Homo sapiens: one gene and its partner. The protein of the gene in region 1 interacts with the protein of each later gene in a biochemical or structural test. Each region holds a gene or a part of one and is shown on either strand. Other genes may lie near its edges.

What was found. Proteins that work in one complex are often made in the same cells at the same time.
Region 2: the proteins of RAD51 (region 1) and SPIDR form a complex in vitro, tested with the Homo sapiens proteins (one study listed by BioGRID and IntAct).

Annotation. Positions count from the first base shown.
Region 1 is NC_000015.10:40,705,088-40,708,740, reverse strand, and holds part of RAD51 (DNA repair protein RAD51 homolog 1), read right to left. Parts: intron 2,565-3,653; coding exon 2,447-2,564; intron 1-2,446.
Region 2 is NC_000008.11:47,592,785-47,596,437, reverse strand, and holds part of SPIDR (DNA repair-scaffolding protein), read right to left. Parts: intron 628-3,653; coding exon 432-627; intron 1-431. UniProt on the Homo sapiens protein: Plays a role in DNA double-strand break (DBS) repair via homologous recombination (HR).

The sequences.
Region 1 (3,653 bases):
CATGGTGGCGGATGCCTGTAGTACCAGCTACTCAGGAGCTAAGGTGAGAGGATCACTTGAGCCTGGGAGGCAGAAGTTGCAGTGAGCCAAAATCGTGCCAGTGCACTCTAGCCTGGGTGACACAGTGAGACCCTGTTTCAAAACAAACAAACAAACAAACAAATAAACCAAAAGTATTTTGAAATAATTAGATTTATAGATAGCTGCAAATAAGGCCAGGTGCGGTGGCTCACACCTGTAATCCCAGCACTTTAGGGGGCCGAGGCGGGCTGATCACCTGAGGTCAGGAGCTCGAGACCAGCCTGGCCAACATGGTGAAACCTCATGTCTACTAAAAATACAAAACTTAGCTGGAACTGGTGATGGGCACCTGTAATCCCAGCTACTAGCAGGCTGAAGCAGGAGAATCACTTGAACCTGGGAGGCGGAGGCTGCAGCAAGCCGAGATCACGCCACTGCACTCCAGCCTGGGTGACAAAGTGAGACTCCTCAAAAAAAAAAAAAAAAAAGCTGGGCACAATATGGTGAAACCCTGTCTCTACTAAAAATACAAAAATTAGCTGGGCATGGTGGTGCATGCCTGTAGTCCCAGCTACTCGGGAGGCGGAGGCAGAAGAATAGCTTGAACCTGGGGGCGGAAGTGGCAGTGAGCCAAGATCATGCCACTGCACTCCAGCCGGGGTGACATAGCAAGACCCCATCTCAAAAAAAAAAAAAAAAAAAAAAGCTGGGCACAGTGGCTCATGCCTGTAATCCCAGCACTTTGGGAGGCCGAGGTGGATGGATCAGGAGGTCAGGACTTTGAGACCAGCCTGGCCAAGACGGTGAAATCCCGTCTCTACTAAAAATACAAAAATTAGCCAGGCACGGTGGCGGGTGCCTGTCATTGCAGCTACTCAGGAGACTGAGGCAGGAGAACTGCTCAAACCTGGGAGTCAGTGGTTGCAATGAGCCGAGATTGTGCCACTGCATTCTAGCCTGGGCAACAGAGCAAGACTCTGTCTTTAAAAAACAAACAAACAAACCAACAACAACAAAAAAAAACATACGAAATTTCTATGCACCTAGCCTTCTGCAGTGTTAACCTCTTGCATAATGATAGTATAGCACTGATATTAGAAAACTGACATTGGGGGCCAGGCATGATGGCTCACGCCTGTAAGCCCAGCACTTTGGGAGGCTGAGGCGGGTAGATCATCTGAGGTCAGGAGTTCGAGACCAACCTAGCCAACGTGGTGAAACCTCATCTCTACTAAAAATACAAAAATTAGCTGGGCATGGTGGCACTTGCCTGTAGTCCCAGCTACTTGGGAGGCTGAGGCAGGAGAATCACTTGAACCCAGGAGGCGGAGGTTGCAGTGAGCTGAGATTATGCCACTGCACTCCAGCCTGGGTAACAGAGTGAGACTCTGTCTCAAAAAAAAGGGAAAGAAAACTGACATTGGGCCAGGCAAGGTGGCTCAAGCCTATAATCCCAGCACTTTGGGAGGCTGAGGCAGGAGGATGGCTTGAGCTCAGGATTTTGAGACCAGCCTGGGCAACATAATGAGTGATGCCCCGACTCAAAAAAAAAAAAAAAAAAAAAAAAAATTAGCCAGGTGGTAAATGATCATAGTCCTAGCTTGGGGAGACTGAGGCTAGAAGATCACTTGAGCCCAGGAAGCAGAGGTTGCAGTGAGCTGAGACCATGCCACTGCACTCCAGCCTGGGTGACAGAGTGAGACCCTGTCTCGAAAAATAAATAATAAGGTCAAAAGCTTTATAGTTTTCCCTGAAGTCCTGAAGATTAGTGTGTACACAATGAGTAGTATTCAAACATGGAATGTTTTAACCAGTCATCAGGTTTTCAACCCTGTGGTAGAGTAGGTTATAATTACAGTTACCTCCTTAAGCAAAAGGAGCTTACTCTCTTAACACAATATTAAATGGAGACTAAATTATTTAATTTGCAGATAAGTTTAGTATTTTATAAATAAGGTCCTACCTTGCAGCAGTCTTACCTCTTCAATGTGGATACTTCCTTTATCTCTCTTTGTTTTTGAGACAGAGTTTTGCTCGTCACCCAGGCTGGAGTGCAGTGGCACAATCTTGGCTCACAGCAACCTCCGTCTTCCGGGTTCAAGTGATTCTCCTGCCTCTGCCTCCCGAGTAGGCATGTGCACCTACAGGGATTACAGGCATGTGCCACCATGCCCAACTAATTTTGTATTTTTAATAGGTTTCTCCATGTTGGCTGGGCTGGTCTCGAACTCCCAGCCTCAGGTGATCTGCCCACCTCAGCCTCCCAAAGTGCTGAGATTACAGGCATAAGCCACTGCACCTGGCCTTCCTCTATCTCTTTATCATTATCTAACAAGGAAATGCTACACAAATATTTCAGTTTTGTTTTATAACCTGGAAGCTTTCCTAACTAGAGTTCACAACACAGGATAAAGGATTACTACACCTTGAAGTAGTTTGTCAAGCTCTTTGGAGCCAGTAGTAATCTGTATGATCTCTGACCGCCTTTGGTGGAATTCAGTTGCAGTGGTGAAACCCATTGGAACTAATTTAGCTGCCTCAGCCTGGGAAAAATAAGAAATATTAAATCAACAAAATAATATTCCTTACCACAGTGATCTTGATGGCAAAAAAATATATATAAAGAAAAAAGAAATATTAGTAAAACAAGGTGTGCAATGGGAAGAGAAAATATCAAATAAAATTACCAGGATGATTTCTCTTTAGAAAGTCATAAAAAAGGATAATCTAATTCAGAGATTCCATGAAGATCAATTTTTAAATTGCCAATTCAAGTTAATATATTAATATAGTTTTAAAAACTATTATAGATCCGGCCGGGTGCGATGGCTCACGCCTGTAATCCCAGCACTTTGGAAGGCCAAGGCAGGCGGATCACAACGTCAGGAGATCGAGACCATCCTGGCTAACATGGTGAAACCCCATCTCTACTAAAAAAATACAAAAAATTAGTCGGGCGTGGTGGCGGGTGCCTGAAGTCCCAGCTACTTGGTAGGCTGAGGCAGGAGAAAGGCGTGAACCCGGGAGGCGGAGCTTGCAGTGAGCCGAGATCGCGCCACTGTACTCCAGCCTGGGGGACAGAGCGAGACTCTGTCTCAAAAAACAAAACAAAACAAAACAAAAAACTATTAGAGATCCGTACATATGTGTTTTGCCCAATTTATGACAAAAATGACAATACAGTACACCTTCATTTCCTGCTCCATCAACCGCAGACTGTATCCCTTAACTTCCTACTTTGTAAAAATGAGGACATTTGCCCTTCAATCTTTTCTCTCTCCATGGCTACTTCCCCACCTCTATCAGCTGTACCTTTTCTTTCATATTGTCTGGCTGAGAACATTCACATTCTATTTTGTAATTACAGATAAGTGTTCTGTAATAGCACTATGGGTTGATTCTAAAATTGAAAAGTAAGTGCATTCACAAATATGCAAAAATAAAGCAACACACTCCTAAATAAGCAACAAGTCAAAGAAGAAATGACAAGGGAAATCAGAAAATGTTTTTGCAATGAATGAAAACGAAGATATACCAAAACGTATGGGCTCCAAGAAAAGCAGTGCTTAGAGAGAAATTCATAGCTATAAACAGCTATATTAGAAAAGAAGGCTGGGTGTGGTGAATCACAC
Region 2 (3,653 bases), on another chromosome or scaffold:
ACTTGCCACCATGCAGGTTTGTAGCCTAGAAGCAATCAGCCATACCATATAGCCTAGGTGTGTAGTAGGCTGGACCATCTAGGTTTGTGTAAGTGCACGCTATGATGGTCACACAATGACAAAATCACCTAATGACAAATTTCTCAGACCATATCCCTGTTAAGTGATGCATGACTCTATTTTAATAAATTAGAATAAAGATTAAAGACACATAATTAGAAAGATGAAATACTGTAACAAGAGCACCACTAAATGCTGAACTGAACTATAATATATTCAGGCGTAACAGTAAGTTCATGCAGCATACATCCTTGTGGTGGGGTTTTTGGAGGGAGACAAAAGGCTAACATCTTCACTTACACTGAAGCCCTTCCAAATCCAGTCACTAACATTATTACAAGCATAAAACCTTTAGGCCAATAGGAGTTTACCTGGATTTCAGGTGAATTATTTGTTAGACCCTTAATTACAAACATCTGGGCCAAAGAGATGCTTCTTCTTGGAAGGGGTATGTCCGGACAGTACACTTCACAAGTTTTTTCTGAATCTTCTTTGGCAACAACTTTCTCACAAAAGTAAGTATTCAGAATAACAGGGCAACTTCCACTTGGAATAATCAGTTTTTGCCTGGAAAAGAGAAAGACATGCAACAGTTTCTTTGCAATATTGGGGTCCCCTCATATTCTTGCTAAATCAGGAATGCAAAGAGCAATGACTCGCCTGCTATGGACAGCTAAAGCCAAGCCCACCCACAGAGGCACAGCTGTCCTTCATGCTCCAGCATGGCCACCAGTAGTCTGACTTCACTGTTCTAGTGAAAGCCCTGTGTCAGGAAGGGATGGAAGAAGGCTAAGTCCCTGGGCTTGGGCTCCCTTGTGCCCTCCCAGTATGGCCTCAAGACCCCTCAGGGGGAAATACGGAGGATAAACAAAAACTGTCACAGCCTCAAAAAAGTGCCCAAACAATGAAATAAAATGTACAAATAAAACCTTCAGAAATTTTGATAGCTCTTTCAAAGAACATACCATTAAATGCCAAAGGAGCATCTACCTTTGCTATCAAACTGACTATAGTTGCTGAATACCTCACATTTAAGTATTAATAGAAAAGGAGTCAGGAAATAGAGCAGACAAAATTCTCCTGGTTCTTCTCAGTCCTTGGACAAGAGAAAACACTTTAATGCCTATTCCTTAAAACATGGCGCTGCTTAATATTAAAAATTTGGGACTTCTGATTCTGGGAGGACGGAGTATCACACTTTCCCCTATTCCTCTAATTAAGTACAACTAAAATGCCTGATATTATATGTAAAGTAAACATAAGAAGACACCGAGAGGTGGAGAGAAGAGACCAACAGGCTAAAACCTAGAGACCTCAGGACTTCAGGAATGAGGCAGTGGCAAGTTCCTGGGTTTTCTTTTTCTTTTCTTTTTCTTTTTTTGAGACATGGTCTCGGCTCTGTCGCCCAGGCTGGAGTGCAGTGGCATGGTCTCAGCTCACTGAAACCTCTGCCTCCTGGATTCAAATAATTCTCGTGCCTCAGCCTCCTGAGTAGCTGGAATAACAGGCATGAATCACCATGCCCAGTATTTTTTTTTAGTTTTTTAGTAGAGAGAAGGTTTTGCCATGTTGGCCAGATTGGTCTCAAACTCCTGACTTCAAGTGATCCACCCACCTTGGCCTCCCGAAGTGCTAGGATTACAGATGTGAGCCACTGTGCCCGGCCCTGGGTTTTCTTTTTGCCTCTTATATCTCAGGTTTTGAGCTGAAGGAGCCAGCAACCCGGAAACAGTAACATGTGCTGACAAAAAGCTCTACCAAAGCCTGCTCTCTTTAACCAAGGACCAAGGAAGGGGCAGCCTAGAAAGGCAGAAAACTCTTAGATGGTAACTGCTCTACTCTAGGTAAACATCATGAAAAACCTATGACTTGTCCCTATGCATGCTAGCACAGGCCAAGTGAAGACCTGGACTTCCCCCCTCATTGGGCTGTAATGAGAGCACCCCAGTATCCCAGCTGGGATACCAGAGAAGGTGGGCCAAGGAGCTTTCTTTTCCTTTTTCTTTTTTTTGAGATGGAGTCTTACTCTGTCGCCCAGCTGGGGGCACGATCTCAGCTCACTGCAACCTCTGCCTCCCAAGTTCAAGTGATTCTCCCACCTCAGCCTCCCAAATAGCTGGGACTACAGGCGCCCACCATCATGTCCAGCTAATTCTTTTTTTTTTTTTTTTTTTTTTTTTTGTAGAGACTGGGTTTCATCATGGTGACCAGGCTGGTCTCAAACTCCTGACCTCAGGTGATTTGCCCGCCTCGGCCTCCCAAAGTGCTGGGATTACAGGCGTGAGCCACCGTGCCTGGAGGACTTTGATCTCCCACAGGCCTGCAACGAGTACTCCCCTCATTGTGACAATGGAGAGACTACCTGGGGGCCTGGACTTCACCTCCTCCTGACAGTAGTAACCAAGCAACACTCCCTGCCCCTCTGGGGTGGTGCCAGAGGAAGTGTGGCAGAGAATCAGGATTTTCACCGCTGCTCAGTGGTGCTGAGGCCACCCTTCCCTCCTACCCCTCAGCAGAAGGCATGTGAGGAACAGCAACAAGGCTTCCCTGGCCCTCCCAGCCAGGGTGGTGTCAGCAGAGGCTTAGCAGGGAGCTGGAACTCATACCCCTGCCCAGCAGGAACAAGGAGTCTCTCCCTCTCTCAACTGTCAACTGAGGAACCTGGACTTCCCTCTCCACGTGGCAGTAACAACCCACTCCACTCCTCACTTTCTCCTACCAGAGCAGTGTCAGATGAAGCTACCTAAAAGAGGTTTCAATAAGATCCAGAGTCTCAAAACATAATACTCCAAATGTCCATGTTTCTATCAAAAATCACTTGTTATACTAAGAACCATGAAAAATCTCAACTTGAATGAATAAAGACAGTTAATAGATGTCAATACTGAGATAACATAAAGGTTAGAATTATCTGGCAAAGATTCTAAAGCAGCCATTTAAAAAAGCTTTAATAAGCAACCTTGACGCACTTGAGACAAATGAAAAAAAATAGTCTCAGCAAATAAACAGAATAAATATTTCTTAAAAATGGAAGTTTCAGAACTAAAAAAATAGTGAAAATAAAAGAATAGGTTCAACAGCAGAAAGGAGGAGAAAGAGAAAAGAATCAATAAAGTCGAAGATAAAAATAATAAAAATTACCCAATATAAATAATAAAGGGAAAACAGACTTAAAAAAAAAGTAAAAAACCTGGCTGGGCATGGTGGCTCATGCCTGTAATCCCAGTGTTTTGGGAGGCCGAGGCGGGCGATCACCTGAGGTCAGGAGTTCGAGACCAGCCTGACCAACATGAAGAAACCCTATCTCTACTAAAAAATACATAATTAGCTGGGCGTGGTGGGGCATGGCTGTAATCCCAGCTACTCGGGAGGCTGAGGCAGGAGAATCGCTTGAACCTGGGAGGTGGAGGTTGTGGTGAGCCAAGATCGCACCATTGCACTCCAACCCGGGCAACAAAAGCAAAACTCCTCTTCAAAAAACAAACAAAAAACCCCCAACAGAACCAAGGACCTGTGGGAAGAAAGAAATAGAAATGGAAGGCTATAGATAAAATAATACAGGTACATACAAGAGGCTTTCCTACTCCTCTTGA